7 separate regions of the Homo sapiens genome follow, and all the other regions are linked to region 2. Evidence: fine-mapped expression QTL. A gene starts in region 2. Each other region holds a variant in brackets. All regions are shown on one strand. Distances are from middle to middle. Region 1 overlaps CECR7 (cat eye syndrome chromosome region, candidate 7). Region 2 holds the start of IL17RA (interleukin 17 receptor A). Region 3 overlaps IL17RA (interleukin 17 receptor A). Region 4 has its middle 9.8 kb from the start of HDHD5-AS1. Region 5 overlaps IL17RA (interleukin 17 receptor A). Region 6 holds the start of CECR7 (cat eye syndrome chromosome region, candidate 7). Region 7 overlaps CECR7 (cat eye syndrome chromosome region, candidate 7).

Region 1 (4,351 bases), 26 kb before region 2:
AACATGACCATATGCATTTTCACATGCTCAGTGACTCACAGATTCATAAGACCTGAGACGGACGTGCATTTTGGGAGATCCAACTTTAGGATATGGGCTCACTGTCTCAGCACATGCAGACCAGGCCTGAACTCTATTCAAGAAAGCTGCCTGCCAGTTTATAGCAGGGGTTAGCAAACCTTTTCCATGAAGAGCCAGTTAGGAAATGTTTGAGGCTTTGCAGAACATGTGGTCTCTTGCAACTACTCAACTCACTAAAGCAACAATGGACAACACATCCGTGAAGAAGCATGGCCGTGTTCTGGTAAAACAAAACTTGGCTGCAGTTTGCCCATGCCCAGCCTAGAGTTTGTAGCCTCTTCCCAGAGAGAGGGAATCTGACAGATTCCCAAATCTGTCAGAGACTAGGAAGTCTCCTTCAGAAGGACACCCCTCCAAGCCTGAGGATCCATCCACCCACAGGAGGCCTGGCACAACTCATTCCCCACTCAGCTTGGTGCAAGCTAACCCTATCAGGCCCTGCCACTGTTATCCTTGCTGACCACCCCCAGTGTCCTCTCAAGTGGAGGCTGCCTGCTTCTCATGTCCTCCGCCACAGGGTCAGGCACTGCACCCACCCCTTCCAGCCCCACAGGAGCCCCTCTCCCCAGCCCTGGCCTGCTGCCACCCGACCCCCTCACCAGGGAGCCCCTGCACATCCAGTTGAGCCCAGATGGCATTCCTTTAGGAAACCTCCTCGACACTCCGAAGTCCAGATCGCAGGCCCCACCTGGAATGCTCTCCTTGCAGCCTGTTCGAAGACTCATGAGACCGTGCTGCACACTGGACTTCAACCATGAGCTTCACCGTCTGTCTCTTCCTTCACTACCTTCGCTCTGCACTAGGCCATAAGCTCTGTAGGAGAAGGAACTCATCACAGTGCCTGCCCCAGACAGGTTGTTCATAAGCACGTATTGAAATATAGAATTCCCAGGCACCTCCAACAGAGAGACTGGACCTTGTGAGACCCAACAAGAAGCCAGTATTTCAGAACTGATGAAAAATAGCAAGGATCTAGATTAGGGGGTATAGTGGGAATGAAATGGGGGACTGGGTGATGCCCCATATTTGTCAACGACTCATAGTCTTTCTCCAGAGATGTCTTCCTCCCCTGTGTTCTTTGTCTCATCAGCTGCCACCAGCACTCACTCCAGCCACTAAAGCCAGAAAGTTGAAAGACCTCTGCCCTCATCCGGCCCAGCCCCCATCCAGCCAAAGACCTGTCATTTCAACCTCACGCCCACCCCGCTTTCCACTCCCACTGCTCCTGCCTTAGTTCAGACCACCACCGTCGCTCTCCTACCCAGTTCAAGCCAAGCTGACCTGGCCAGTGGCCTTCAGGCCTTCCCTTCTCCATCCTGCCATGTCCATCCTCCACAGGCAGAACAGGAAGCTGTCATGTAAAAGTGCAGGTCTGCTTTGGTCCTTCTCCTAAACCCTTCAGTGGCTTCCCGGTTCCCTTTGGGTCCTGGTACAGATTCCTTAGCATGGCCAGGGAGGACAGCCCTCCATGATCCTCCCCTCCCTGAGATGTTCCTCCTGCCCCAGCACCCTGTGTTTGAGCCCAAGCCCGCCCTGTGGTGTCACGGGAGGCCCAGCTCCTCTGCCTGGGGTGCCTTGCCTGGCCTAGGAACTGGGAAAACTTACCTGCTTCCAAGACTCAGCTCTAGCACCTCTTCCTGCTGGGTGTTTTCCGATGCCCCCC[C/G]TCTCGCCACCTCATGGGGACCCCACAGTCCCCTGAAGAGCCTTCTGCCCCAGTGCCTCACCCCACTCTTTAGACCTGTTTCTGTTTCCATGGCTGCCTTGCCTTCTTAGACCACGGGCTCCTGCAGAGCGGGACCCCATATCTCAGTCGGCTTTGCATTCCCAGTGCCTGGCCGAAACTGAGGCTGGAATGGTCTCCTATTCCATAAGCTCTCAATAACCCTTGAAAAATGACTGGAATCCTGGACAGCGCCAAGGCAGCAACTGGGATGGGAGAGTGATCTGCTGCCCTCTCCTGGCAATGTGAGGAATTGTCCTAAGCACAGACAACTCCCTCCCTGCCTTGCACAAGTGCAGGATGGGGGAAACTGGAAAAGGAGCTGATGGAGGATTGGGGAGGTGGATGCTGTCTAAGGAGACAAACTGAATTGAGGGGTTGCTGGGACTCGGCCGGCTCACATGCTATTCCCATGTCATGGGCCCAGGGGCCAAGTCAGTGCTTCCAAAGGAGGGTGCATCCTGAGAGAGGCTCTGGCTCCCCCAACAAAACCCTAAACTCTTGAAGGACATCTTCCTTCTCAGTATACCCTATTGCTGTGTTGTTGTAACTATCACTGTAACTTTTATTCACTTCAGTGGGCGATCACTGAGTTTTTCCTCCATTGTTGTAAAACATGTGTTTTGCTCTTGTGTGTAAAATGACTGTGAATTTAGCCACTGCCTTCTCCTGATTTTAACTCAGCTTTCTACTGCTAGGAGGTTATCTCTGTTCTGGGTTTCTCAGCTTTCTATCAAAACCCAAATACTGTCATTCCTCGGTATCCGTAGGGGATTGGTTCCAGGAACCTCCCTTGAAGATACCAACATTGCAGGTGCCCAAGCCCCTGATAGAGAACAGCGCAGCATTTGCAGACAACCTATGTACACACTGCATGCACTTTCAATCAGCTCTAGATTACTTCTGATACCTAATTCAATGTAAATGCTGTGTCAGTAGTTGTCTAGGGAATAATGACAAGAAGAAAATTTTGTACATGTTCAGTACGTAGGAAAAAGAAAGAGAGATCAGACTGTCACTGTGTCTATGTAGAAAGGGAAGACATAAGAGATTCCATTTTGAAAAAGACCTGTACTTTAAACAGTTGCTTTGCTGAGATGTTGTTAATTTGTAGCTTTGCCCCAGCCACTTTGCCTTAGCCACTTTGACCCAACCTGGAGCTCACAAAAATATGTGTTGTATAAAATCAAGGTTTAAGGGATCTAGGGCTGTGCAGGATATGCCTTGTTAACAAAATGTTTACAAGCAGTATACTTGGTAAAGGTCATCGCCATTCTCTAGTCTCAATAAAACAGGAGCACAGTGCACTGCGGAAAGCCGCAGGGACCTCTGCCCTTGAAAGTGGGGTATTGTCCAAGGTTTCTCCCCATGTGATAGTCTGAAATATGGCCTCGTGGGATGAGAAAGACCTGACTGTGCCCCAGCCCGACACCCATAAAGGGTCTGTGCTGAGGTGGATTAGTAAAAGAGGAAAGCCTCTTGCAGTTGAGATAGAGGAAGGCCACTGTCTCCTGCCTGCCCCTGGGAACTGAATGTCTCGGTATAAAACCCGATTGTACATTTGTTCAATTCTGAGATAGGAGAAAAACCGCCCTATGGTGGGAGGCGAGACATGTTTGCAGCAATGCTGCCTTGTTATTCTTTACTCCGCTGAGATGTTTGGGTGGAGAGAAACATAAATCTGGCCTACATGCACATCCGGGCATAGTACCTTCCCTTGAACTTAATCATGACACAGATTCTTTTGCTCACATGTTTTTTGCTGACCTTCTCCTTATTATCACCCTGCTGTCCTACTACATTCCTTTTTGCTGAAATAATGAAAATAATAGTCAATAAAAACTGAGGGAACTCAAAGGCCGGTGCCAGTGCAGGTCCTTGGTGTGCTGAATACTGGTCCCCTGGACCCACTGTTGTTTCTCTATACTTTGTCCCTGTGTCTTATTTCTTTTCTCAGTCCCTCATCCCACCCGACTAGAAATACCCACAGGTATTTCTAGGGAGGGGCAGACCACCCCTTCACAGTAAAGCCACAATATTTTTCAAATATTTTTACCCCAGGTGGTTGAATCCCCAGTTGAATCCAGAACCCACAGATGTGAAATCCATGGGTGAGGAGGGCCAGCTGTGCCTGTTAGCATCCCCTGACCCCCACGGTGCCCACTGCTTCAATGGGTCAGGTGATGTCATGCACCCCTCCTGGCAAAGAGAAGCATTACCTCAGCTCCTCTTGGGGCTGCAGGTCTAACCGTCTGCATCTTAACGTTTGCAAAGGTTGCCTAACCCCTAATATAGGAAATAGATTTGGGGAAGGAGCTTGAGTCTGTAGCTGGAGATTTGTGATTGATGTTCACAGAGATAGTTAAAGTCTTGGAGTGGCTAAGATAGCCACCTGCAGAGAAAAATCACCTGTCATTCACCATTGAATCCTCCATCTCTATTGCACAGGGCATTGTATAAACATCAGGTGTCTATGGAACAAATGCAAAGAGAGTACACAAAAGAAGCAAAAGGGACTGTCTTTGCACGATGCAGAAAATTAGACCTGCA
Region 2 (4,295 bases):
AATCCCAGCTACTTGGGAGGCTGAGATGAGAGGACCTCTTGAGCCCTGGAGTTTGAGTCTAGCCTGGGCCGTTTAGTGAGACCCTATTTAAAAAAAAAAAAAGGTGACAAGATGGCTATGTGATCTTTGCATATGACTGAAAACGGGTTCAAAGAATTGATGAGACAAATATAATTATTTATGTAAGCAATTTTTTAAGGCTTACATCTAAAATATTTTTAGCCTGGGGTGGTAGCTCGTGCCTGTAATCCTAGTACTTTGGGAAGCTGAGGCAGGAGGATGACTTGAGCCCAGGAATTCAAGACCAGCCTGGGTAACATAGTGAGACCCTGTCTCAATGTTTTAAAAAGAAGAAAAATGGTGGCTCACGCCTGTAATCCTAGCACTTTGGGAGGCCGAGGCGGGCGGATCATGAGGTCAGGAGATCAAGACCATCCTGGCTAACACGGTGAAACCCCGTCTCTACTAAAAATACAAAAAATTAGCCGGGCGTGGTGGCAGGTGCCTGTAGTCCCAGCTACTCGGGAGGCTGAGGCAGGAGAATGGACTGAACCCGGGAGGCGGAGCTTGCAGTGAGCCGAGATCACGCCACTGCACTCCGGCCTGGATGACAGAGCAAGACTCCATCTCAAAAAGAAAAAAAAAAAAAGAAGAAAAATAAAATATTTCTTAAATGCTGAATGTTGCTTTGTTCTATGAATAAGCAATATTTGTTCACAGATACATCAACTAATTAGGAATAAAATGAATTTCAAGTAATTCATGTTTAATTACTTATTAACATGTATTATATTTACATTATTTTTTATCAATTATGTACTAATAATGGCAATGATGAAATGAAGATCTCAGTGTCTTGCACTGGGCAGAGGCCTTTCTCATTCTCTGCCACTTGGGCCCCAGCATGGCTTCCCTAAGAGCTAGGAGCTCAGAGGGAGGGGCTGGGCAAGACAGAAGTCAGGATCTTTTTGTAACTTAATCTTGTAAGTGACATCCCATCATTTTTGTCTTCTTCTATTCATATTCTATTGTTAGAACCAAGCCTCTGGGTCCATCCCACACTCCGCGAGGAGGATTCAGAAGGTCGTGACTCCCAGGGGGTGGGATCCTAGAACACATCTTAGAAGCTGCCTACGACAACCGCTGATTTTTAAGTAACAGTTACATCCTCTACATCTATTTAGACTTAGGATGGAGAATTTTAGATGTCATCTTTAAAATGCATGAGAGGATGCAGTTTTCCAAAATTCTTTTAGAAACAGACAATTTGAAGGCCACTGAGCTTCAGGCTTCATTCAGCTGGGTCGTGTCTGCGGGCGGGGCTCATAGAGATGTCGCTGGGGGTCAGCGGGTGCTTCGGGCAGCGAAAAAACCCACCTCTCGAGGGCAGTGGAAAATACAGGGAAAAGCCACTTGAGTGTAGACTCCGTGCGTGTCAAGGCCAGGCAGAGGCGCACTTGATAGGCAAGGAAAAGCGGACGGTGGTGGTCTTGGGAGGAAGAGAGGAGAGGCGAATGGGCAGGAGCGTGTGGATGCACTAGGGCAGGACGGGCTCGAAGCAGGAACCTAGGATAGAGGCAGCGCGGGCCGGCTTGGGAGGGTCCTCCAGGGTCCGGAGAGGAGAGGACGCAGGCTGCACGCGTGCTAAGAAGGAGACTCATGAAATGTGTAATTCGCTGGCGACAGCTTCCGCGGCCGTGGAGTGAGCCTCTGGGAAGTAACGACTCTCTTAGGTGCGGCTGGGACACAGTCTCACAGACCAGGTAAGTTGCCTGCCCTCCAGGAACTCAAGTGTCCCCGAGTCCGAGCCAGGAGGCTGGAAGTGACTGCTGTCCCATCCTCCCTGGAGCCCGGAGCTGTCCTTGTCTTGAGAAAGAGAAAGCAAAGCCAAGGAAAGCAGAGCGAGCAGAACCAGGCAAAGGGGTGGGGACAATAAAATGGGATATGGCCCGCGCTTCCATCTACTCAGGAGGCAGAGGCAGGAGGATCGCTTGAGCCCGGGAGGCCGAAGCTGCAGTGAGCTGCGGTTGCACCACTGCACTCCAGCCTGGGAGACAGAGGGAGACCCTGTCTAAAAATAAAGTAAAATAAAAAACAAAAATAAAAGGGACAGAGACTAAGAAAACGGACTTCCTGAAATCCCAAGTTGGGATTTCACGTCCAGTGACCCACAAGAGAAGCAAGAAGTCTGAACAGGGCCAAGAATCAAGTGAGTGGGGGCGGAGGATTAAAATCGACAGTTGCTGCGGCACGGCCAGGGTGGAGGGTGCATGTGGGGCAGGCGAGGCTCCAGCTGGAGTTGACGCTAGCCCGACGCGGGTGCAACTGGAGGCGCGACGGGCCAGGCCCAGGAGCAGCGGGAGGAGCGCACCTGGGGCGCGCGGGCGGAGGAGGGCCGGGGAGGGACGCCGGAAGGACTGGGTAGGGACGCCCGGAGGACTGAGCGTAGGGCCGAGAGGAGGGGCGCAAGGAGGAACGGGGGGAGGGCCCTGTCTCACCCTAAACCCCTCCCCGTCCCAGACTAAACTCCTCCCCTCGGCCCGGCCCGCCCCTGGGCCCGGGCTGGAAGCCGGAAGCGAGCAAAGTGGAGCCGACTCGAACTCCACCGCGGAAAAGAAAGCCTCAGAACGTTCGTTCGCTGCGTCCCCAGCCGGGGCCGAGCCCTCCGCGACGCCAGCCGGGCCATGGGGGCCGCACGCAGCCCGCCGTCCGCTGTCCCGGGGCCCCTGCTGGGGCTGCTCCTGCTGCTCCTGGGCGTGCTGGCCCCGGGTGGCGCCTCCCTGCGACTCCTGGACCACCGGGCGCTGGTCTGCTCCCAGCCGGTGAGACTCGACGTGGGGAGCGGTAGCCGCCAGGATGCTGCGGACGCGGGGCAAGGTCGCGGAGGGCCGGACGGTCGGGACTACGCGCCCGGGCTGGGGAGGCAGGAAGTCCGCGCCGCGGGCTTAGAGGGGCTCAGAGCCTTGGGCACAGATATCGCGGCGCCTGGGGAGGACCCTCGGAGCGGTGGGAGTTGCGGTGTGGAATACGGGGGGGGTGGGTGGCACATCGCGCGGCGCGTGTTGCACAACCTGGCCCGCCGTCGTGACTGGAGGCGGGAGTGACACCTCCGCCCGGGCCGCGGAGTTCGGGGAAGGAGGGCGCGGCGCTGGGCCAGGCCGGAGGGGCGGCCAGGGCTGATAGAAAGGGGCTGTGGAGAAGGGGCCCGGGGAGGAGCCAGGACGGGTCTGGACCCAGCTCCACGCCTTGCGCCCCTCACGTACCCCGGCGGGGCACGGTCGGCCCTCGGGAGGCCCATCGCGCCCTCGGGAGCTTCCCTCAAGCCGTGCCCTTCATGCCGCCGACGGAGCCGGGCGAGCCCACGTCGTCCGTGCGGAAGGTGGAGTCCCTCACCCGCGGCCCCCAGAGGGACCCCGCTGTCGTAGAGCCACGCGGGGGCCGGAGCGCTGAGACGCGGCACCATGTTTCGGGGAGAGCTCTGCCGAGGGCGGCTGAGGGCCACCTCCCCAGAGGCGCGAAGCCCTGAGGATGGGCAGATGGTTCTTAAGACGGCGCCCTTCCCGCCACTCCCACCCCCGACTACCACCACCTGGGTCTGGGAACCCGGTGAGAGCGCAGTCGGAGGGTCGAACGTTTGTAGCTGTCAAGTCGTAGCCCCGCTGCGCCCACAGGAAGTGACCCACCCGCCTGCCGGGTAGTGGCCTTTCTGTGAGCCAGGACCATCTTAAGGAAAAAAACAAAAAAAGAGCAAAACGCCGTGCCCCTCCACAATATACTCTCCTCTTCCCCGCATCCCCGAGGGGATCTTTCCTCCCCTCCACCTCCACCTCCACCTCCACCGCTGACCCCAAGGAATAATGCTCAGTATCTGAGTCAGAGGATGTAAAACAAAGGGATATTTCTCCTTATGTAGTTTTATGGAGGATTTACCGAAAGAAGGTGGAGGGTGAGTGACTATGTCGCAGAAAAAAAAAAAAAGATGTTTTTATCGTGAATGATGTTGAGAAATGTCCTGTGACTTCCACTATTGGGCAAAGCAGGTCCCTCTGCCCTGCTAGTCCCTCCTGCAGGCTGTGTATGAAGCGTTCTGATATGGAGGGTTGGTGCGCCTGGGTTGACAGCCATTGGTCAGGTGCCTGCAGAGTACAGGGCGCCATACTGGGAACTGGAACTATAAATAAATACTCTGGGGACCCTAATATCCAGAGACCTAACCCATCTACGGGAGGAACAAGGCTTGAAGTTAGGGAACTGTCTAGCAAAGCTGCTTGCACAACTGCTAAGTGTACGGAATT
Region 3 (4,000 bases), 21 kb after region 2:
GGAACGTGCACAGGTGGAGAGAGTGGTGTGGCTGGGAGTGGGGAGCGTGCACAGGTGGAGAGAGTGGTGTGGCTGAGAGTGGGGAGCGTGCACAGGTGGAGAGTGTGGTGTGGCTGGGAGTGGGGAGCGTGCACAGGTGGAGAGAGTGGTGTGGCTGGGAGTGGGGAGCGTGCACAGGTGGAGAGTGTGGTGTGGCTGGGAGTGGGGAGCGTGCACAGGTGGGGAGAGTGGTGTGGCTGGGAGTGGGGAGCGTGCACAGGTGGAGAGGTGTGGCTGGGAGTGGGGAGCGTGCACAGGTGGAGAGAGTGGTGTGGCTGGGAGTGGGGAGCGTGCACAGGTGGAGAGAGTGGTGTGGCTGGGAGTGGGGAGCGTGCACAGGTGGAGAGTGTGGTGTGGCTGGGAGTGGGGAGCGTGCACAGGTGGAGAGTGTGGTGTGGCTGGAGTGGGGAGCGTGCACAGGTGGAGAGAGTGGTGTGGCTGGGAGTGGGGAGCGTGCACAGGTGGAGAGAGTGGTGTGGCTGGGAGTGGGGAGCGTGCACAGGTGGAGAGTGTGGTGTGGACGGGAGTGGGGAGCGTGCACAGTCTGGCATTCTTGCTGGTGGACAGGGGAAAGCTTGTCCTCTCTGTGGCACCAAGCACCACTACCAGTCAGGATTCCTTGCCTGGTAAGGCACTGCCCCTGCCTTTCTCCTGTCTGGTTCTCCCACCCTCACCTGGGCAGGGGTTCGCTGACCCGCCCTTGCTGGAGGGAGATGATGGTCACCTGGAGATCGTGGTGTAGCCAGCCAGGATCCCCTCCTCTCACATTGCCGCTGCTGGCTGGAAGGCATGGGCGCTCTACAGTTCTGGAGCCCTTTTCCTGCCCTCTCTGCCCGCAGATCCAGCCCTTCTTCAGCAGCTGCCTCAATGACTGCCTCAGACACTCCGCGACTGTTTCCTGCCCAGAAATGCCAGACACTCCAGGTAGGGGACATGCGGCTGTCCTAGGCCATACTGGGAGAACAAGTGGCTGAAGGCCCCCAGCCTGTGCTGCGTCCTTACCTGGTTCTGAGGGGTGATTAGGGAGGAGAGTTTAGTTTAACTTGGAGTCCTTCAGGCCTGAAGTGTGGAGTGGGGCTTTAGAGTGTCACTCCCTGGGGCTGGACTCCTGGCTGTCTTTCATTAGCTATGTAGCCTTAGGCAAATTACTTAATCTTTTTGATTCTCAACTTCCTTGACTGGAAAATGAGGTGGTTTTTATCCTAGAGCCCTAGTTCTGTGCCATGCACTGAGCGCAGTGCTCCAACATGCCGTCCATTTTTTCATCCTCACTCATTGTGAGTCACGGTACTATGCAGTAGAGGATCCCCCCACCCCAAACCCCAGGTTCCTGGATAAGGAAACTGAGGCACAGAGATGTTGAATAACTTGTCCAAGATCACACAGCAGGGACGCTGTTTTCAAAAGTCGCATGCCCTAATGCACGGGAGGCTGCAGCCACGTGCTCACCAGAAGGCAAGGCGCAGGCATGGAGCCAGGCTGGAAGGAGAACCCAGCCTCCCAAGGAGGAGGCAAGGTGTCTCTTCTTAGACCAGCAACTCAAGTGTCTCTTGTAGATGGTTTCATTAAGTTCAACCTGGATCTAGAGTGCCTGGTGCAGGGCCAACATCATTAAAGCCCTCAAGGGACGTCAGTTGTGTTTCTTGTGATGACTGGGAAGGGTTAAGAATGCTATTTTCCCTTTTTCCTCTGTTCTCATTGCAGAACCAATTCCGGGTAAGCTTGGATCTCTCTCCGACAGCACTGCAGCCCTCAGGGGACATTCCCCAGTGGCCACTTGAGAAGTCCCTGCCTCAGCCAGGCAGA[C/G]AAGGCTGAACCGAGGCCAGCCCGGGGTGGGGGGTGAGACCATGGTTTGTCGTGGTGGGGCCAGAGAGGACAGAGCCTGGGGCTGGGGAGCAGGGCTGGGGGCCTCAGGGTGGGCAGGGCAGGCCCCGCCGCATCACTCACGCTGTTCTGCTCACCGCAGACTACATGCCCCTGTGGGTGTACTGGTTCATCACGGGCATCTCCATCCTGCTGGTGGGCTCCGTCATCCTGCTCATCGTCTGCATGACCTGGAGGCTAGCTGGTAAGCGCTGGGGCTCTGGCTGTCCTGGAGTCAGGCTCTAATACCAGCACCACCACTCACTACCAAGGCAAATCGCTTTATTCTCAGAGCCTCAGCTTCTTGCTTGAGAACCACGTCATAAAGCTGTTGTAAGGACTGAGTGAAATAAGACACATGAATTCTTAGCACAGAACCTGGCATGTGCTATTTGCACAGTATCTGTTAGCCACGATTATATTTGTTGTTATCAAATGTAGTATTATTAAAATCAATAGTTTGGAAGGAGCCGGAGTAAAGTTTCCCTGTGTCAGGAATGATCATCCAGGCAGGTGGAGCAGCCTGAACAACCCCATCCTGCAGCCGCCAGACGTGGACGCCTGGGGTCAGGGAGAATAGTGAGGGTCAGCATCGGGTGATAGAGAAGGCTCCGGCTGCCCTGAGCCACAGGGGTGGACCCCAGCCCCACCTCATTAGCCTTGTAGTCACAGGCCAGTTACTTAATACACCATGGATTCACTTTTCTGTAAAATGTACTGATAATGCCTCCCTCTAAGGGTGTGACGAAGGTTAAATGAGTAGCTGAGGAAGGTGCTTGCTGGTGGGGATTAGTACATACCAGTGTCTTCTCCCACCTGCAGCCCTCTGCTGGCCAAGTCCTAAGCCGGGAGAACACAGGCCTTCCGGTTGGGGCTTCAGCCCTTGCCTGCCCCACCATGACCCTAGGCTGCTCCTTCCGTCATCTGGGAAGCTGTTTCCACCCTTCCCTAGGCTCGTCAGGATTAGGTGTTAATCATTATTAATTATTATGTGGTAGAAAGAAAACCAGCCAGGCATGGGAGGACCTATGGGAGGTTCCAATAACATTCAGTAGCATCTCGGCCAGTGCTCCACAGGCGGTGCAGCTCTCTAAAGGTTTGGGGCTGGGCGGCGGCGGCGCTTTTGGTTTCCTTTCTGCTGTTGCGCTTCTGTTTTCCGAAGTGTCCTGCACCACAGGGTGAAGGCAAGAGGAGCCTCGCTGTTATTTGGCTGTCTTGTGACAGTTCTGGGGAAGAGCTGAAAGGGTTAGGATTGAGATTAAGGTTCTAAGTCGTTTGCTCAGTCATCTGTGGATCTCAATCCTCCCAGCTGTCACTAAGGAGTTAACCCCCGCAGAGCAGTTTTTTCATCACATCTCTGAGGGGAACAATTGCTTAAGTATGTGGGTTCCCCTTCCTCACCTCAAAAATACCAGGAGGAAATGTTGCAAGCAGCCTGGTGGGGCTGCTTCTGGAAAGAAGTGTGGTAAGATGCATGTCTTCTGTAAAGACACTTCTGGGGAAGAGCTTTTCCTCATGTGGAGTCAGTTTGGGGTGGCCAAATTTCAGGGAGACAGGGCAGACCAGGACCGTAATGAGGAACCAGAATGGACACCACCCCCTGCCCCCCGGCACTGGGGGTCCCAGCTGGATCAGTGCTACAAAATAACTGTGATCCCAATTGATTATGTACAACGTGCCAGGCACGTCACATACACACACTCATTTAATACCCATTAAACAAGAGCAAATACAGACCCACCTCACAGAGGAAGAAGCTGCATTTCAGAGGCACTAGTAACTGCTCCAGGTCATAGTGCTCGTAGTGGCAGACCCAGGACTCATGCCTGTGCGACCACCTAGCACGGCCTCGCTGCTCAGTCTCGGGGCTGCCCCCTTACCCTTCACCCTTTGTCAGGGATGGGGCAGACACCCTGTGAGCTGGTTTCTATTTCTCTTCCCAAAGAACCACTCCAGTGTATTTCTTTTCCTTTCCAGGGCCTGGAAGTGAAAAATACAGTGATGACACCAAATACACCGGTCAGTATTTCCTGGTTTGCATGTTTGCTTATTTTTAAAGCAGTGGAGGGTTCTCCTGGGATAAGTGCGTGGGTCGCCT
Region 4 (4,351 bases), 85 kb after region 2:
TCCCAGGCTGAACACTCTGTCACTGAGCCCATCCACCCTCACCCTCGGCCTCAACGCTCCTTGCCATAGCTGGGGGGCAGGGGTGGAAGGGTGACCTTCCAACATCCTGACCCATGTATAGAAGAAAGTAACTCAGGGAGGCCGGGCACGGTGGCTCACGCCTGTAATCCCAGCACTTTGGGAGGCCGAGGCGGGCAGATCACAAGGTCAGGAGATCGAGACCATCCTGGCTAACACGGTGAAACCCCGTCTCTACTAAAAATACAAAAAATTAGCCGGGCGTGGTGGCAGGCACCTGTAGTCCCAACTACTCGGGAGGCTGAGGCAGGAGAATGGTGTGAACCCGGGAGGTGGAGCTTGCAGTGAGCCGAGGTCGCGCCACTGCACTCCAGCCTGGGCAACAGAGTGAGACTCCGTCTCAACAGAAAAAAAAAAAGGAAAAAGTAACTCAGGGAGCTTCCTGGCCAAACAGACACCGCTCCTCAGCCCAGTGCTCCTGATGGGGTGCTCCCATCCCCAGTCCTGCCCAGCTTCTGCCTTTGCCATGTCCCCCTGTTCCCTTCCTGTGTCAGTACCATCCTCTCCCCGCCCATCGTCACTTGCTCCAGGGAACTCTGGCCCAAAAGAGGCCAGCTGGCCCAAAGCGCCTGAAATGCTGGCAAGGGACAGAGCCCTTGGCACGGTCCCTGTGGAGGGTCAGGCTGGGTCATGGCTCCAAGTGCAGGCAGAGGAGAGAGCACTAGAGATTCAGGCTCTGAGTTGCCCCCAGGGCCAGTTGCGCCAGGCTGGCTCCTTCTGCCCAGTCCACTGTATCCACGTTGAAGACAGGCTGGTTTCTTGTGGGAAAGGGGCAATAAAAAGGAGAGGAGAGGAGGGAATAGGAGAAAGGAGAAGCTAGAAAGAAAGAAAGAAAAGGAAAGGCAAGAGAAGCTTGATCAAGGAAATTTTAAAACCCAACAGAGATGAAGAGGAGGGAGGAAGGAAACATCAGAAACATCAGTAGACAGAGTTCTTTTTCTTTTCTTTTTCTTTCTTTCTTTTTTTTTTTTTTTAGAGACTGGGTCTCCTTCTGTTGCCCAGGCTGGAGTGCAGTCACTCAGTCTCGACTCACTGCAGCCCCGACCTCCTGGGCTCAAGCAATCCTCCTACCTCAGCCTCCCCACCACACCCAGCTAAATTTTGTATTTTTTGGCAGATATGGGGTTTCGACGTGTTGCCCAAGCTGGTCTCAAACTCCTGAGCACAAGCAATCCACCCGCCTTGGCTTCCCAAAGTGCTGGGATTACAAGAGTATGAACCACTGCACCCAGTCTGACAGAGTTCTTTTTTTGTTTGTTTTGTGTTTTGTTTTGTTCTGTTTTTTTTTTGAGACGGAGTCTCACTCTGTTGCCCAGGCTGGAGTGCAATGGCACAATCTCGCCTCAGAGCAACCTCCGCCTCCCGGGTTCAAGTGATTCTCCCCCTTCAGCCTCTGGAGTAGCTGGGATTACAGTCTCCCACCATCATGCCTGGCTAATTTTTGTAGAGATGGGGTTTCACCAAGTTGGCCAAGCTGGTCTTGAACTCCTAACCTCAGGTGATCCACCTGCTTTGGCCTCCCAAACTGCTGGGATTACAGGCTGGAGCCAGCGTGCCTGGCCCCTGACAGAGTTCTAAGCATGTGGGAAGCATGCGAAGTCCACGCAAGTCCCTGGGCTGGGCTGCTAGCCTCCCTGCTTGGTACCTGGTGGCTGTTCCCCAGGAGGGCAGATAGACTCCCTGCTCTCTGCCCTCTTGTCATTGTGAGCTCCCTGGCCCATCCCTAGGCTGCACTGCACTTCCCAGTCAGGGCAGTGCCTGGACCCTCCAAATACAGCTCCTGCCA[T/C]GGCCTCTTCCGAATCCTAGGGGCAAACGGGGCATTGATGCACTTAGCTCAGCCCTCACACTCTCCTGCCACCGACCCTGAGAAGGGGCAGCTGGCACCAGAGAGTCTCTGAGCTGAACCTGGGCTCATTCTGCAAGATCCTTCCTAGGGAGACTGGCATGCAGGCAAGGGGATCAGCTCCTGAAGGCCCCCAGACTCCCATAGGAGGGGAGGGAACTCCAGGGATAGGCAGAGGGAAGGCTCCTGGGGGAGTCAGTTGCCCTCCAGAGCCCAGGCTTACGGGTGGGCTGAGCAGATGGAGCCACTGCCTGATGCTGTCTCCCCATGCCCTGACTCCAAGTGACCCCACTGGCTGCTGCCCCTGTGGCTCCAGCCATGGATGGGTCCCAGCCTTTGACTGGCTGCACTTCATTGTATTTGATGGTTACTTTTTGGAGTCAACTTGACTGGATTGAGGGACACCTAGATAGCTGGTAAAGCAGTGTCTTGTGAGGCTGCTTCCAGAGGAGACTGGCGTATGAGTTGGTAGGCTGAGTGGGGAAGACGCCCTGTCAATATGGGAGGGTACCATCCAATCAGCTGGGAGCCTCGGTAGGACAAAAAGGCAGAGGAAGGGCAAATTTGCTGTCTCTCTCCTGGAGCTGGGACAGCCTTCTTCTCCTGCCCTTGGACATCAGAAGTCTAAGGGTCTTGACCTTTAGATGCTGGGACTTGCACCAGCAGCCCCCCAGGTTCTCAGGCCTTCAGTCTCAGACTGAGTCACACCTTCAGCTCCCCTGGTTCAGAGGCTTTCAGATTTGAACTGAGCCATGCTCCCAGCAGCCCCAGGTCTCCAGGCGGCCTGTCGTAGGACTTCTCAGGCCTCCATAATCACGTGGAGCCAATTCACCTAATAAATCCCTTCTCATCTATCTGTCTGTCTCCTATCTCTATCTATCTATCTATCTATCTATCTATCTATCTATCTATCTATCTATCTATCTACCTACCTACCTACCTGCATGCTATAGGTTCTGTCTCTCTGGAGAACCCTAATACGGTTGGGATGCAAATTGGAAGGCACACCACCTGTTAAGTAGTCCTGCTGAAAGAATCAATCCTAAATCTTATCAAGACTTGAGATCCAGGCGGGGCGCAGTGGCTCAGGCCTGTAATCCCGGCACTTTGGGAGGCTGAGGCAGGCAGATCACTTGAGGTCAGGAGTTCAAGACCAGCCTGGACAACATGGTGAGACCCCGTCTCTACTAAAATACAAAAATTCGCTGGGCACGTTGGCTCATGCCTATAATCCCAGCACTTTGGGAGGTGGCTGGATCACCTGAGGTCAGGAGTTCGAGACCAGCCTGGCCTACTAAAAATACAAAAATTAGCCGGGCGTGGTGGTGTGCATTTGTAATCCCAGCTACTTGGGAGGCTGAGGCAGGAGAATTGCTTGAACCTGGAAGGCAGAGGTTGCAGTGAGCCAAGATGGTGCCATTGCACTCCAGCCTGGGTGACAAGAGCAAAGACTTCATCTCAAAAAAATAAAAAATAAAAATAAAAAAATTAGGGAGGGCGTGGTGGCTCACGCCTGTAATCCCAGCACTTTGGGAGGCCGAGGTGGGCAGATCATGAGGTCAGGAGTTCAAGACCAGCCTAGTCAACATGGTGAAACCCCGTCCCTACTAAAAATACAAAAATTAGCCAGGTGTGGTGGCGCACACCTGTAATCCCAGCTACTCGGGGGGCTGAGGCAGGATAATTGCTTGAACCCGGGAGGCAGGGGTTGCAGTGAGCCGAGATCGCACCATTGCACTCCATCTGTGGGCGACAGAGCAAGACTCCATCTCGAAAAAAATAATAATACAAAATTAGCCGGGCATGGTGGTGTGCGCCTGTGGTCCAGATGAGGCAGGAGAATAGCCTGAACCCAGGAGGTGGAGGCTGCAGTGAGTTGAGATTGTGCCACTGCACTCCAGTCTGGGGAACAGAGTGAGACCCTGTCTCAAAAAAAAAAAAAAAGAGTTCAGAACAGTGTGGATACTGTGCTGCCTTTTATATGAGAGCAGGAAAAAATATATATATTTGCTTTTGTTTATTTTGCATAAAGAAACACAAGAAACTAAGCCTGGTGGGAGAATGGGTGGGATGGGAAAGAGGACAGTGGAAAACAGAGGTGGATAGAAGCCTTTCGAATGTGTTCCTTTTCATACTTTTTGAATTTTTGAAATGTGATTGTATATAGATTCATTTTAATTTTAAATGTAATTAAAATTTAAAATTCATTACGGCACTACTCTCTCATCCTGTACTATGGGCTCTACCCTTTTTTGTTTGTTTGTTTTTGTTTTGTTTTGAAGAGACAGAGTCTCGCTGTTTTCCCCAGGCTGGTCTAGAACTCCTGGGCTCTAGCGCCCCGCCTGGGCCTCCCAGAATGCGGGACTACAGGCGCCGCCACCACCCGGCGTCTACTCTAAATGCATAGAGGCCAGGATGACCCAAGGTCAC
Region 5 (4,329 bases), 27 kb after region 2:
GTTCCGGGACTGGCAGGTCCGCTGTCCCGACTGGTTCGAATGTGAGAACCTCTACTCAGCAGATGACCAGGATGCCCCGTCCCTGGACGAAGAGGTGTTTGAGGAGCCACTGCTGCCTCCGGGAACCGGCATCGTGAAGCGGGCGCCCCTGGTGCGCGAGCCTGGCTCCCAGGCCTGCCTGGCCATAGACCCGCTGGTCGGGGAGGAAGGAGGAGCAGCAGTGGCAAAGCTGGAACCTCACCTGCAGCCCCGGGGTCAGCCAGCGCCGCAGCCCCTCCACACCCTGGTGCTCGCCGCAGAGGAGGGGGCCCTGGTGGCCGCGGTGGAGCCTGGGCCCCTGGCTGACGGTGCCGCAGTCCGGCTGGCACTGGCGGGGGAGGGCGAGGCCTGCCCGCTGCTGGGCAGCCCGGGCGCTGGGCGAAATAGCGTCCTCTTCCTCCCCGTGGACCCCGAGGACTCGCCCCTTGGCAGCAGCACCCCCATGGCGTCTCCTGACCTCCTTCCAGAGGACGTGAGGGAGCACCTCGAAGGCTTGATGCTCTCGCTCTTCGAGCAGAGTCTGAGCTGCCAGGCCCAGGGGGGCTGCAGTAGACCCGCCATGGTCCTCACAGACCCACACACGCCCTACGAGGAGGAGCAGCGGCAGTCAGTGCAGTCTGACCAGGGCTACATCTCCAGGAGCTCCCCGCAGCCCCCCGAGGGACTCACGGAAATGGAGGAAGAGGAGGAAGAGGAGCAGGACCCAGGGAAGCCGGCCCTGCCACTCTCTCCCGAGGACCTGGAGAGCCTGAGGAGCCTCCAGCGGCAGCTGCTTTTCCGCCAGCTGCAGAAGAACTCGGGCTGGGACACGATGGGGTCAGAGTCAGAGGGGCCCAGTGCATGAGGGCGGCTCCCCAGGGACCGCCCAGATCCCAGCTTTGAGAGAGGAGTGTGTGTGCACGTATTCATCTGTGTGTACATGTCTGCATGTGTATATGTTCGTGTGTGAAATGTAGGCTTTAAAATGTAAATGTCTGGATTTTAATCCCAGGCATCCCTCCTAACTTTTCTTTGTGCAGCGGTCTGGTTATCGTCTATCCCCAGGGGAATCCACACAGCCCGCTCCCAGGAGCTAATGGTAGAGCGTCCTTGAGGCTCCATTATTCGTTCATTCAGCATTTATTGTGCACCTACTATGTGGCGGGCATTTGGGATACCAAGATAAATTGCATGCGGCATGGCCCCAGCCATGAAGGAACTTAACCGCTAGTGCCGAGGACACGTTAAACGAACAGGATGGGCCGGGCACGGTGGCTCACGCCTGTAATCCCAGCACACTGGGAGGCCGAGGCAGGTGGATCACTCTGAGGTCAGGAGTTTGAGCCAGCCTGGCCAACATGGTGAAACCCCATCTCCACTAAAAATAGAAAAATTAGCCGGGCATGGTGACACATGCCTGTAGTCCTAGCTACTTGGGAGGCTGAGGCAGGAGAATTGCTTGAATCTGGGAGGCAGAGGTTGCAGTGAGCCGAGATTGTGCCATTGCACTGCAGCCTGGATGACAGAGCGAGACTCTATCTCAAAAAAAAAAAAAAAAAAAGATGGTCACGCGGGATGTAAACGCTGAATGGGCCAGGTGCAGTGGCTCATGCTTGTAATCCCAGCACTTTGGGAAGGCGAGGCAGGTGGATTGCTTGAGCTCAGGAGTTCAAGACCAGCCTGGGCGACATAGTGAGACCTCATCTCTACCTAAATTTTTTTTTAGTCAGTCATGGTGGCACATGCCTGTAGTCCCAGCTACTCGGGAGGCTGATGCCAGATGATCACTTGAGCCCAGGAGGTAGAGGCTGCAGTGAGCTATAATGGTACCATTGCAATCCAGCCTGGGCAGCAGAGTGAGACCCTGTCTCAAAAAAAATAAAAAAGTAGAAAGATGGAGTGGAAGCCTGCCCAGGGTTGTGAGCATGCACGGGAAAGGCACCCAGGTCAGGGGGGATCCCCGAGGAGATGCCTGAGCTGAAGGATTGTGGTTGGGGAAAGCGTAGTCCCAGCAAGGAAGCAGTTTGTGGGTAAGTGCTGGGAGGTGAGTGGAGTGAGCTTGTCAGGGAGCTGCTGGTGGAGCCTGGAGGGGAAGGAGGGAGGCAGTGAGAGAGATCGGGGTGGGGG[G/T]TGGGGGGATGTCGCCAGAGCTCAGGGGTGGGGACAGCCTTGTGCGCATCAGTCCTGAGGCCTGGGGCACCTTTCGTCTGATGAGCCTCTGCATGGAGAGAGGCTGAGGGCTAAACACAGCTGGATGTCACCTGAGTTCATTTATAGGAAGAGAGAAATGTCGAGGTGAAACGTAAAAGCATCTGGCAGGAAGGTGAGTCTGAAGCCCTGCACCCGCGTTCCGACTATCAGTGGGGAGCTGTTAGCACGTAGGATTCTTCAGAGCAGCTGGGCTGGAGCTCCCCTGAGCTCAGGAAGCCCCAGGGTGCAAGGGCAAGGAAATGAGGGGTGGTGGGTCAGTGAAGATCTGGGCAGACCTTGTGTGGGGAAGGGGTGCTGCTGTGACTTCAGGGTCTGAGGTCCAAAGACAGCATTTGAAAAGAGGCTCTGAAGCCAGTGTTTGAAGAATTTGTTCCTGAAGTACCTCCTGGGGGTAGGCTAGAGGCTTCTGGCTTCAGGGTCCTGAAGAACACATTGAGGTGCCGTCTGACACTGGAATAGGGTGCCCTTCATTCCTATGCCTGAGTCCTTAACTATATTTCCAACCTCCAGTGAGGAGGAGAAGATTCGGAAATGTGACAGGAGAGCAAACAGGACAGTTTGCATGTGTGTGTGCGCACACATACATGTGCGTGAAAGATTATCAATAAAAGTGCATAAATTTGTTGATCTGGTAAGAGTTTCTAGCAGGAAGGTCGAGCCACTTACTGTAGGTCAAGAAGTTGCTAGTTGCGGAGTTTTTTCTTGCAGTTAGACTTTACCTAGTGGTAGCAGGGCCACCAAAGCTCTGTGTCCCAGATGGTGTATGGCCCATAATCCACCCAACAGCAGCAAAGGACCAGGCAAAGGAGAACAGGAGCAGAAGCCTCCCAGCCACTAGCCTTTTGGGCTCAGTCTCTCCAATAATCCTGGAGAGGGGCTTCGTTGGGTCTGGACACCTACCATGCATTCTGTGACCTTTCCCTAGCTTCCAATAAATAACTGTTTGACGCCCAGAGTACAGGATACCACAATGCACTCTTCCTGCGTAGAGCACATGTTCCCATCTGCTCCCATTCCTCAGGAACCTTGAATTCTAGCTCTGCTGGCCTTTGAGCCCATGCCAGTAAATGTCCTGATGGGCATTGCCTACTATCTCCAGGGCAGCTGCCTTTGTCCTCCTAACAGCTTTATTGGAGTACAGTTCACTTACCATACAATCCACAATTGACCCTGCACAATTTGATGCCGGTTTAGTATAGTCACAGTTCAGCAGCCATCAGCACAGTCAGTCTTAGAGTTTACTACCCCCAAAAGAAATCCAGCCCCCCTTAGTCACCACCCCAACCTCCCCATCCCTAGGCACCCCTAGGCTACTTTGATCTCTGTAGACTTGCCTCTTCTGGACATGACATAGAGAAAGGAGTCATAAATTCTCCAAGGTGTCTGTTTCTTCTTTAATGTCATTCCCTGTTTCTCCTCACATTCCCTCCCCATTTCCTGGGCCCAGTCTCACACTGGTCCTTGCTTACCCTAAATGCTATTAATTCCATCACTCTGAGTATGGTGTTTGCTGTCCGCTGAATGCCAAGAGCTTCAAGAGTGTGTGTAAATAAAGCCACACCTTTATTTTTGTATTATTCTGAACCATGGCTAATAAATTGTTTCACCAAGAAATGTCTCTCTAAGAACAGGTGCCCTCCACGCTGTGCCCCTCCCACCTCTTCAGCTCGTCTCCTGAGTGTGCAGAGGTGGTTCCGGTTGGGAAAGAAGCAGCGGAGCATCTAACCATGCCTGTGTCCAGGCCGATTATGCACGCAGCCACCAACAAGCTCCCAACTCCCGCGTAGAGTTTCATGACTTTTTCCTGCCTACTATCTTGATCCTAGTTTTTTTTTTGTTTTTTTTTTTTTTAAGGAATAATTACTTTGATTCAAAACCAGTTTCTCTTTTCTGCATAGGAAGGTCCTTGAAGGTGTTTAGGGTCTAAAAAGGGTGGTGTTCGGTCTCTGAAACATCCATTCAGCAGTTTGAGCTGGGATCTCTGAATGCAAGGGTATGATGGATATACTTCTTTCTTGCTTTTGTTGTGTTTTGGTTTTTTGTTTGTTTTTAAGTCAGGGTCTCTCTGTCACCAGGCTGTATTACAGTGGTGCAATCATGGCT
Region 6 (4,351 bases), 48 kb before region 2:
AGAAACACACATGCTTGCAAATCCAGCCACTAACCATTGACCTGTCTTGGACTCAAGTGTGAAGAGCCAGCCAAGGAATGCAGACCCGGAAGCCTAGGGTGTGTGTGTGTATTTGTAGTCAAGTGAAAATCCCACCCAAGCTCCAGACAGACCCTGGCGGCCCATTCTGCAGATGTTGGTGAGGTTGGTATTTCTGCGGAGGTGTCAGCAAAGGTTGAATGTGCCAGGCATGAGGCAAAGGCCAAGGTTTAGGGGGACTTCTACACACACACCTGCCCCCTTGCCTTGTCCAGCCAGAAAGCAGAGAGCAGTGGCATCTGCCCAGCACAGAGGCAGATGGGTGGATCCACTCATCGGAGGATAGAGCAGGGAAGACAGGACAGGAGAAATCCAAGAGGGCTTCTCAGGGGAGGAGGCGTGTAGTTTGGCTTAGATGCAGAGGCTAGACAGGGGCCTGAGCAGATGAGTAGGGGACTGGGCATTTGAAGCCAAGAGTCTTGCACCTCCCTACCCCTTTCTTTGCACCCTCATACTTGAGCATTTATTAGCAACTTGTGCTAACCACTGAGCTAAGCTGACCTCCAAGTAATTAGAAAGCTTAAGTAAACCAACATCTGTAGATGAGAAAGGTGACTGAGGACCTACTGTTACAAAGGCAAGGTAATTTGAGGCTGCAATGAGCTATGAGCAACTGTGTTCCAGCCTGGGAGACAGAATGTAAAAAAAATAGTAATAACAGAAAGTATGCATCAATCTCAATTTTTTTAAAAAAAGGCAGATGATTTTACAGTTGTTTTATCAAAACTCAAAGAACAGGAAAGCCCAAATTATTTCAACAAAGTCAGACCTTTTAAACAGATGATAGCTGCCCAAGTCATTTTTATGAAACTTCTTTATATCAAAACGTAAGTCTAAAAAGAGAAAAGTGTTGACCTTGATACAGGCTGTGTTAGGCAGAGATTTCAAGGAAATCCTCTCTGAAGAGGTGACATTTGATCTGAGACCTGAAGCACCGGAAAGAGGCAGCCAAGCCAGGAAGAGGCAGGAATGGGAAGGTCTAGGGAAAGACTGGTCCTGGCAGGCAGAACTGCGGTGGCAAAGGCCCAGCGGTGATCAGGAGCTTGGCATTTGGAAAAATAAAGAGTGTGTGTGACTGGACAGCGTGATCAAGTGGGCAGAGGAGGAGATGGTGATAGGGTGTGCACTGGTCAGGCCACCTAGCTCCTGGAGCCCACAGTGAGAAGCATGGGCTTGACTCTGAGGGCAAAGGAGAGCCACAGAGAGTTTGGGTAAAGGGGAAAGTTGGCATTTAATTTTATAGCTTTTTGAAGTTTGTTTTGTTTTCTTAGAAACAGGGTCTCAGTCTGTTACCCAAACTGGAGTGCAGCTCAAAATATTTTCCAATTTATCTTGTGATTTTTTTTTGATCCAATGATTTAGAGGTGGGTTGTTAAATTTTCACATATTTTCAGATGTCCAATATTTCTTACTGTTGTTAGTTTCTAATTCTGTTTCAGTCAGATAACTTATTTGTTTTCCCTGTCTCTCCTGTCTTCTGATCCTGTTTTTCCATTGACTACCATTTTTAAAATAAACTTATTTCAGTGTGTCATTTACAATCCTATTTTAATTTTTTGCTCTATCTCTGACGTGGTTGTTCCAGGGATTATAATGTGCTTTTAAATTTTTCCAACGAATGAAGAACGAAGTGATCGACTTCTTGCCTCTGCCGGGGCTCTGAAGCGCTGCCCCGAGGCGGTGGACGGAGGGTGCCAGGCGTGACATCAAGAGCTCTGCAGCCAGGGCCTGGGGCAACCTCCCGCTCCACCTCCCGGGAGCCTCGCAGCCAGCATCCCCAGCGGCTCGTGCTCCCCGGCCAGGCGGGACCTCAGCGCTGTGGCGGCCGCAGACCTCACCTGGGCAGGCCCCGGGCCGCATGCGGACCCTAGAGGCAACCAGCGGGCTGGATCCGCACAGCGGCCCTGGGGAATGGATCGTGTACAGGGGACAAAGCTACACATGTCTTTCATTTTGGAGGGGGGAAAAAAGAAAAAACGGAAATGAAAGATTGAAAATG[T/C]GTGGGCTCTCCGTCCTTTCCTTTGCTCCTGCGCGCTCTCTGGGGTGGGGGGCTCAGCGAGCTTCAAGAGGTGGCCGAGATTCCCCCACCCCGCCCCCAGATCCCCGGGAGAGGTCAGCACGGCCCCTCCCGTGGGTGTCACAGAGACCGATACCGGTCCCGCTCCCCGGGAAGGAGTGGGTCTGGGTCCAGTCCGCAGGACCCCCTCGCGGATGCTGACGCAGAATGGAGTTGAGGTGGGGGCAGCGCTGGACCCTAGGGCCCCTGCCTGCCTCCTGGGGAGCCCGGTGACCCAGGCAGCCCTGGTGAGGCCGCAGGAGTCTGGGCCCTAGCGACGCCCCCGGGCTCCCACAGGACGAATGTAGACGGTGAGGCCAAGGACGCCCTGCTGCCCTCGGGACTGTCCCTCCAGCCCCCAGCTTTCCGTGGTTATTGGGCCCCCTCTGCAGAGGGGCAGGGGAGCCCACCCTGGATCCTGAGGCGCCGAGCTTGAGGGACCCCAGAGCTCCAGCCAGGCCGCTTTCTTTGCGGATGGTGAAGCTGAGGTCCCGAGGAGGGCAGGGGCAGGTCCCGGGCGCTCCTCAGGCAAAGGGAGCCGATTTAGGGGCTGGGGTCACAGGAGGCGCTTCTGCGACCTCTAGGGCCCTAGAGCCCGGGAGGATGAGAGACTGGGGGCCTTTCGTCCACCCCTGGGGCTGGGCAGACGCTCAGCCTGTGCAACCCGAAGCTGCTTCTGCCCAGTCCCAGCCGCGGCCCCTTTAAGAGGGGGTGGTGCTTCAGCCTGGCGCCAGGGACGCTGCCAGCATGCAGGCCCCGACGGAAGCCGAGACTGCGCTTCGTGCGAGGCCCGGGCAGCATCGGCGGCGTGGTCAGAGCGAGTCTCGGAGAAGATGTGGTGGCTTCCGTTTGTTGGTGGAGGAGGTGGCAGGCCTCGGCGGTAAGTGGAGGGGGATGAACCCCACCTGGAACCCTCTGGGTCTCCCTACTCCTTCTCGGCCGCTCCCTGCTTTCGGGCCCTGACTTCTAAGTGGGCATCTGGGCCCGAGTCGTCAGCGTCGGGGCGGTTGTGGGATCCTGGCCTCGGCAGCGTCCACACCCCCGCCGGGAAGGCTATGCCCCTGTCCGACCCGCGTCCAGCCTATAGGAGCGCCCTGGCCCAGAGGCGGCGGTGAAGCGCTGGACTGGGTCCCTCCGAGCCCCACGGGCCTCTGAGCTGGGGCCTAGGGTTATTTTTTATGCCTCGGGACCTTTAGAAAGAGACCTCGCTAGAGCAGGGGACATCTGTAGTTTCAGTTCTTTGAGGAGTTTCCAGCTATTTAGCTGTTTTCCATGGTGTGTACCCTAATTTTCATTTCCACCTACAGTGTATGAGTTCCCCTTTCTCCAAAACCAAACCCCCATTCCAATTTGTTTTTGTTTTTTTGAGACGGAGTCTCGCTCTGTCTCCAAGGCTGGAGGGCAGTGGCGCCATCTCGGCTCACTGCAACCTCCACCTCCCGGTTTCAAGCAATTCTCCTGTCTCAGCCTCCTGTGTAGCTGGGACTACAGGCGCCCGCCACCACGCCTGGCTAATTTTTGTATTTTTATTTTTAGTAGAGACGGGGTTTCACGATATTTGTCAGGCTGGTCTGAAACTCGTGACCTCAGGTGATCCGCCCGCCTCGGCCTCCCAAAGTGCTGGGATTACAGGCGTGAGCCACGGCTCCCAGCCCCTCTTATTTTGAAAAATTTTTTCTAGGAATATTCAATAACTGTGAGATTATCTGCGTGTGGTTTTGAATTACAGTATTCTAATGAATAGTTAATTTTGAGGACCTTATCTCTTATCTGTTGTTCGATTTTATATCTGTGCAGAATTGTCCGTTCAGGTTCTTTGCGAAATATTAGATTGGATTCTTTTTCTACTTTGTAGTGTTTTTTGTGTACACGTTAGTTGACAACTCCTCGTGAATTACATGATTGCCTGAAATTTTTGCGTAATCTATAGGATGCTTTTTTATTTGGAAAGTAGTTTTCTTTGCTATGCAGAAACTTTTCACGTTGATGTAGTCCCATATGTTGTTTTTTTTTTTTTGCGTTTTATGCGTGTCATTGTGGTCACCCATATTAGAAAATATGCATCAGTAACAAAGCATTTAATTGTCAATGAGGTTTTTCTTCACAATTATCTAAGGTATTAGTTTTCTATAAGAATTGTTTTAAAATATTTTTGTTACCAGAGCAGTTGTATTATATTTCAAAATGTAAGATGATTTTTAAAAGCCTGAGTACCTA
Region 7 (4,351 bases), 41 kb before region 2:
TTTTTTTTTTTTTCTTTTTGAGACAGGGTATCACTCTGTCACCCAGGCTGGAGGGCAGTGGTGCGATTTCTGCTCACTGCAACCTCCCTCTGACTCCCAGGTTCAAGCAATTCTCCTGCCTCAGCCTCCCAAGTAGCTGGGATTACAGGTGCCTGCCACCATGCCCAGCTAATTTTTGTATTTTTAATAGAGACGGGGTTTCACCATGTTGGCCAGGCTGGTCCCGAACTCCCAACCTCAAGTGATCTGCCTGCCTCGGCCTCCCAAAGTGCTGGGATTACAGGTGTGAGCCACCATACCTGGTCTAATTTTTCAAACATTGGAAAAATTTGTGATTTTTTAAAAAGTTTTCTTCTGTTAATTCATTTCATATGACTGGATATATGCCTTATATAATTTCTGTCTTTTAAAGTTGATTAATTCTTCTCCTCTGGCCTAATATATGGTCCATCCTTGAGAATGTTCCATGTGCACTTGAGAAAAATGTGTGTTCTTCTGCCATTGGATGGAGTGTTCTATATATGTCTGCTAAGTCCAATTGGTTTATGATGTTGTTCAAGTTCTTTATTTTCTTGGGGATCTTCAGTCTAGTTTTTCTACTCACTGTTAAAAGTGGCATATTAGAGCCGGGCTCAGTGGCTCACACCTGTAATCCTAGCGCTTTGGGAGGCCAAGGTGGGTGGATCACCTGATATCAGGAGTTCAAGACCAGCCTGGCCAACAAGGCAAAACTCTATCTCTACTAAAAATACAAAAAAAATAGCCAGACATGGTGGCAGGCACCTGTAATCCCAGCTACTTAGGAGGCTGAGGCAGGAGAATCACTTGAACCTGGGAGGCAGAGGTTGCAGTGAGCCAAGATGACACCATCGCACTCCAGCCTGGATGACAGAGCAAGACTTTGTCTCAAAAAAAAAAAAAAAAAGTGCCGTATTAAAGTCTCCAACTATTTTGTAGAACTGTATATTTCTTCCTGAAATTCTGTCAATGTTTGCTTCATGTATTTTGGAGCTCTGAAGTTTATTGCATATATGTTTATGATTATTATATTTCCTTGATGAACTGACCCTTCTATTAATATATAATATCCTTCTTTATCTTTTGCAATTGTTTTTGACGTAAAGTTTATTTTGTCTGATATTAGTATAACAACCCAAGCTCTCTTTTGGTTACTATTTGTGGGGAATATATTTTGCAACCTCTAACTTTCAACCTATTCATGTCTTTAAATCTAAAATGAGGCTCTTGTAGACAGTGCATATTTGGATCATGTTTTATTATTCATTTAGCCAATTCCTGCCTTTGGACTGGAGAGTTTACTCCACTTAACTATTGATAAGAAAGGACCTCTGCCATTTTGTTATTTGTCTTTCGTATGGCTTAATATTTTCTGGCCCTCATTTCCTTTATAACTGCCTTCTTTTATGTTTAGTTTCTTTTTTTTCCCCAAGACCAAGTCTCACTCTGTCACCCAGGCTAGAGTGCAGTGGCACGATCCCAGCTCACTGCAATCTCCGCCTCCTGCGTTCAAGTGATTCTCCTGCCTCAGCCTCCCAAGTAGCTGGGATTACAGACGCACAGTACCATACCCAGCTAATTTTATGTATTTAGTAGAAACAGGGTTTCACCTGTTAGCCAGGCTGATCTCGAACTCTCAACCTCTGGTGATCTGCCCGCCTCGGCCTCCCAAAGTGCTAGGATTACAGGCGTGAGCCACTGCAACTGGCCTATGTTTAGTATTCTGTTTTTTTGTTTGTTTGTTTTTTGTAGTGACATATTTTGTTCCCCTCTCATTTCCTTTTGTTTATATTCTATAAATATTTTCTTC[A/AT]TAGTTACTATGAATATTACATACAACATCCTAAGGTTGTAACAATCTAATTTGAATTAATACCTACTTAACTTCAATTGCATACAAAAACTTATGGTGGCTTATACCTATAATCCCAGCACTTTGGGAGGCCAAGGTGGGCGAATCACCTGAGGTCAAGGGCTCAAGACCAGCCTGGCCAACATGGTGAAACCCCATTGCTATTAAAAATACAAAAATTAGCCAGGCGTGGTGGCATGCGCCTGTAATCCCCGCTACTCAGGAGGCTGGGGCAGGAGAATCACTTGAAACCAGGATTGAACCCAGGATTGAACCCAGGTTTCAGTGAACCAAGATCTCACCACTGCACTCCAGCCTGGGTGACAGAGTGAGACTCTGTCTCAAAAAACAACAAACAAACAAAAAAAAACTCTACTCATGTACAGTCTTCCATTTATATTGTTGATGTAATCTTGTGCCTACCAACTTAGTCCACAAAGGCACTCACGTTGATCTAGTATCACAAGTGGAAAACAGTATTACTTGCCATAAACAGAAGGCAATTATAACTATAGGTTTTTTTAAAAAAACAAACAATTTTCTCATATTCTACCTAAATCCTATTCCCATTGAAAGCTCTGATCCTGAAGTGTATCTTCCTCTTGGGACTTCCAGAGAGTTCAAAGCATGTCAGCACTAAACTAAGAGTCAACCTGATATACTCAGAATAATTGGAAGTGAATCCAAAAAGGGAGGTGATTCAATGTTTTTAAAATGATTTTTCAGATAGCTCTTAAAACCATTTCATGTTCCACAAGAGATATTGCTTATGGTTCAAGTGAATAGGTTGTGAAGCAAGAATTAAATTTAAATACCAACCCTCTCAGTGAGCAGCTGAGTGACTTTGAGGAAGTGAATGTGCCTCTCTGAGCATGAAGTTTTTCTTATTTAAAATGGGCTACAAAAAAGTGCCAGCTTCACACAAAAACATGTATGCAAATGTACATAGCAGCTTTACTCAAAATAACCAAAACCTGGAGACAACCCAGGTTTTGAAAGGCCTAGAGATGCCTTTCAGTAGGTAAATGGTTAAACAAAAACTGAGGTACACCCACAACATGGAATACTGTTCTGCAATAAAAAGGATCAAACCATTGATGCACACAACTTGGATGAGTCTCTAGAGAATTATGCTAAAAAAAACCAACAATCCCAAACAGTTGTACACTATTAAATTATATTTATATAACACGCTTGAAACAACAAAATTATAAAAATAGAGAACAGAGTAGTTGTTAGCAAGGGGTTAGGGATGGGGAGAGGAGAGGAAAAGAGAAGAAAAAGGAGGTGGATATGGTTATAAAAGAGCAACATCAGAGATCTTCCTGATGTGCTGGTGAATGCACAAACCTATATATGTGATAAAACTGCATAAAAATAAATACACCCATACACACACACAGGTACAAGTGAAACGGGAGATCTGAAGATTGGTGGATTGTATCAACATCAGGATTCTGGCTGAGATACTGAACTATAGTTTGCAAGATGTTGCCACTATGGAAAACTACTAAAGAGTACAGGGGCATCAATCTGTATTATTTTTTATAACTGCATGCAAGTCCACAATTATCTTAAAATGAAAAGTTAACTTTAAAAATACCACCCTCATAGGCTCTCTGTGAGGATCAAATGAGATAGTATTTAGGGAAGAAAATTCACTCAGCAAATGTTTATTGACCCCTCTCATCTGTCCAGACACTGTGTGAATGCTGAGCTTACAGCAGGGAACAAAGTTCACACTATAATAGAAATTTTATTCTAGTATAGTGTCACATAAAAGCGAATTGATATTTTTTAATTTGTCATTGAAATTGGTATAATCACGACCACTCATAGAACAGTAGCATGCATCGTGTGCCTACGTGTAATGAAAATAGACTCAGAGAGATGGCAAAATTTGCCCAGGTACCAGGTAGAACCAGAGGCAGAATTGAAACCCAGATTGGAACCCGAGGTTGTGGCTCATCATCTCTAAATTCACTGCCTTCAACAAAGAAGTTCTCTCCCCTTTGTAGGGTAACCCAGAGAACACAGCCGAAGTGGAATGTGGGGACGTCTGCGACACCGGGGACAGAGCAACTGTGGATGAAGAGGGCTACATCTGGTTCCTGGGGAGGAGTCATGACACTATCAATGCCTCTGGGTAGGTGTGACTGATGCCAGGCTGGCTGTTGTCATCCTCATATGCCTCCTGGGATCTTGCTTGCCCAGACAGTCTTTCATGCATTGGTGACAGGACCCTCAGCCCAATTTGAATAGAGCCATGTCTACAATGCCCTGATCCCAGGTTTTGGTGCACCTCCCTAACCCCTGCATACAGAAGAATCAATCAAAATGAAATTCAAGAGTGTCTTGAAGACATAATAAGACACTGTGCAATTTAGAGAAGGGCCTTGGAATGAGACTGAGAAGGAAGACTCTGTTTTGGTCCCCATAGGTTCAGGGAGCTTATTTCATGTGTGTGCTCCTCTAATGCAGCAC

Evidence for each region.
Region 1: its variant is fine-mapped to the expression of IL17RA in cerebellum (GTEx, PIP above 0.99).
Region 3: its variant is fine-mapped to the expression of IL17RA in whole blood (INTERVAL, PIP above 0.99). The same link has a PIP of 0.9 or more in esophagus mucosa.
Region 4: its variant is fine-mapped to the expression of IL17RA in tibial artery (GTEx, PIP above 0.99).
Region 5: its variant is fine-mapped to the expression of IL17RA in whole blood (INTERVAL, PIP above 0.99).
Region 6: its variant is fine-mapped to the expression of IL17RA in anterior cingulate cortex (GTEx, PIP 0.98).
Region 7: its variant is fine-mapped to the expression of IL17RA in prefrontal cortex (BrainSeq, PIP 0.95).

Annotation. Positions count from the first base shown.
Region 1 is chr22:17,056,346-17,060,696 of GRCh38, forward strand. CECR7 (cat eye syndrome chromosome region, candidate 7) reads left to right here. Exons shown (of 4, transcript NR_152826.1): 4 at 1,172-3,725. Among named protein-coding and RNA genes, the nearest start is that of CECR7, 22 kb to the left of the region's middle. RefSeq lists enhancers at 510-679, 1,684-2,184. The variant C/G (reference allele first, on the strand shown) is at 1,745.
Region 2 is chr22:17,082,408-17,086,702 of GRCh38, forward strand. IL17RA (interleukin 17 receptor A) reads left to right here and starts at 2,593. Exons shown (of 13, transcript NM_014339.7): 1 at 2,593-2,822. The coding sequence starts at 2,685. RefSeq lists an enhancer at 1,653-1,822 and silencers at 2,376-2,595, 2,616-2,735, 2,986-3,085, 3,126-3,375.
Region 3 is chr22:17,103,848-17,107,847 of GRCh38, forward strand. It overlaps IL17RA (interleukin 17 receptor A), which reads left to right. Exons shown (of 13, transcript NM_014339.7): 9 at 879-963; 10 at 1,744-1,755; 11 at 2,006-2,107; 12 at 3,880-3,921. Among named protein-coding and RNA genes, the nearest start is that of TMEM121B, 16 kb to the right of the region's middle. RefSeq lists a silencer at 1,963-2,163 and enhancers at 2,933-3,152, 3,110-4,000. The variant C/G (reference allele first, on the strand shown) is at 1,846.
Region 4 is chr22:17,167,020-17,171,370 of GRCh38, forward strand. No RefSeq gene overlaps it. Among named protein-coding and RNA genes, the nearest start is that of HDHD5-AS1, 9.8 kb to the left of the region's middle. RefSeq lists an enhancer at 4,146-4,351. The variant T/C (reference allele first, on the strand shown) is at 1,865.
Region 5 is chr22:17,108,938-17,113,266 of GRCh38, forward strand. It overlaps IL17RA (interleukin 17 receptor A), which reads left to right. Exons shown (of 13, transcript NM_014339.7): 13 at 1-4,329. The coding sequence ends at 883. Among named protein-coding and RNA genes, the nearest start is that of TMEM121B, 10 kb to the right of the region's middle. The variant G/T (reference allele first, on the strand shown) is at 2,146.
Region 6 is chr22:17,034,331-17,038,681 of GRCh38, forward strand. It overlaps CECR7 (cat eye syndrome chromosome region, candidate 7), which reads left to right and starts at 2,240. Exons shown (of 4, transcript NR_152826.1): 1 at 2,240-3,014. RefSeq lists a silencer at 1,779-1,888 and enhancers at 3,552-3,601, 3,612-3,771. The variant T/C (reference allele first, on the strand shown) is at 2,078.
Region 7 is chr22:17,040,988-17,045,338 of GRCh38, forward strand. CECR7 (cat eye syndrome chromosome region, candidate 7) reads left to right here. Exons shown (of 4, transcript NR_152826.1): 2 at 3,886-4,013. Among named protein-coding and RNA genes, the nearest start is that of CECR7, 6.6 kb to the left of the region's middle. The variant A/AT (reference allele first, on the strand shown) is at 1,829.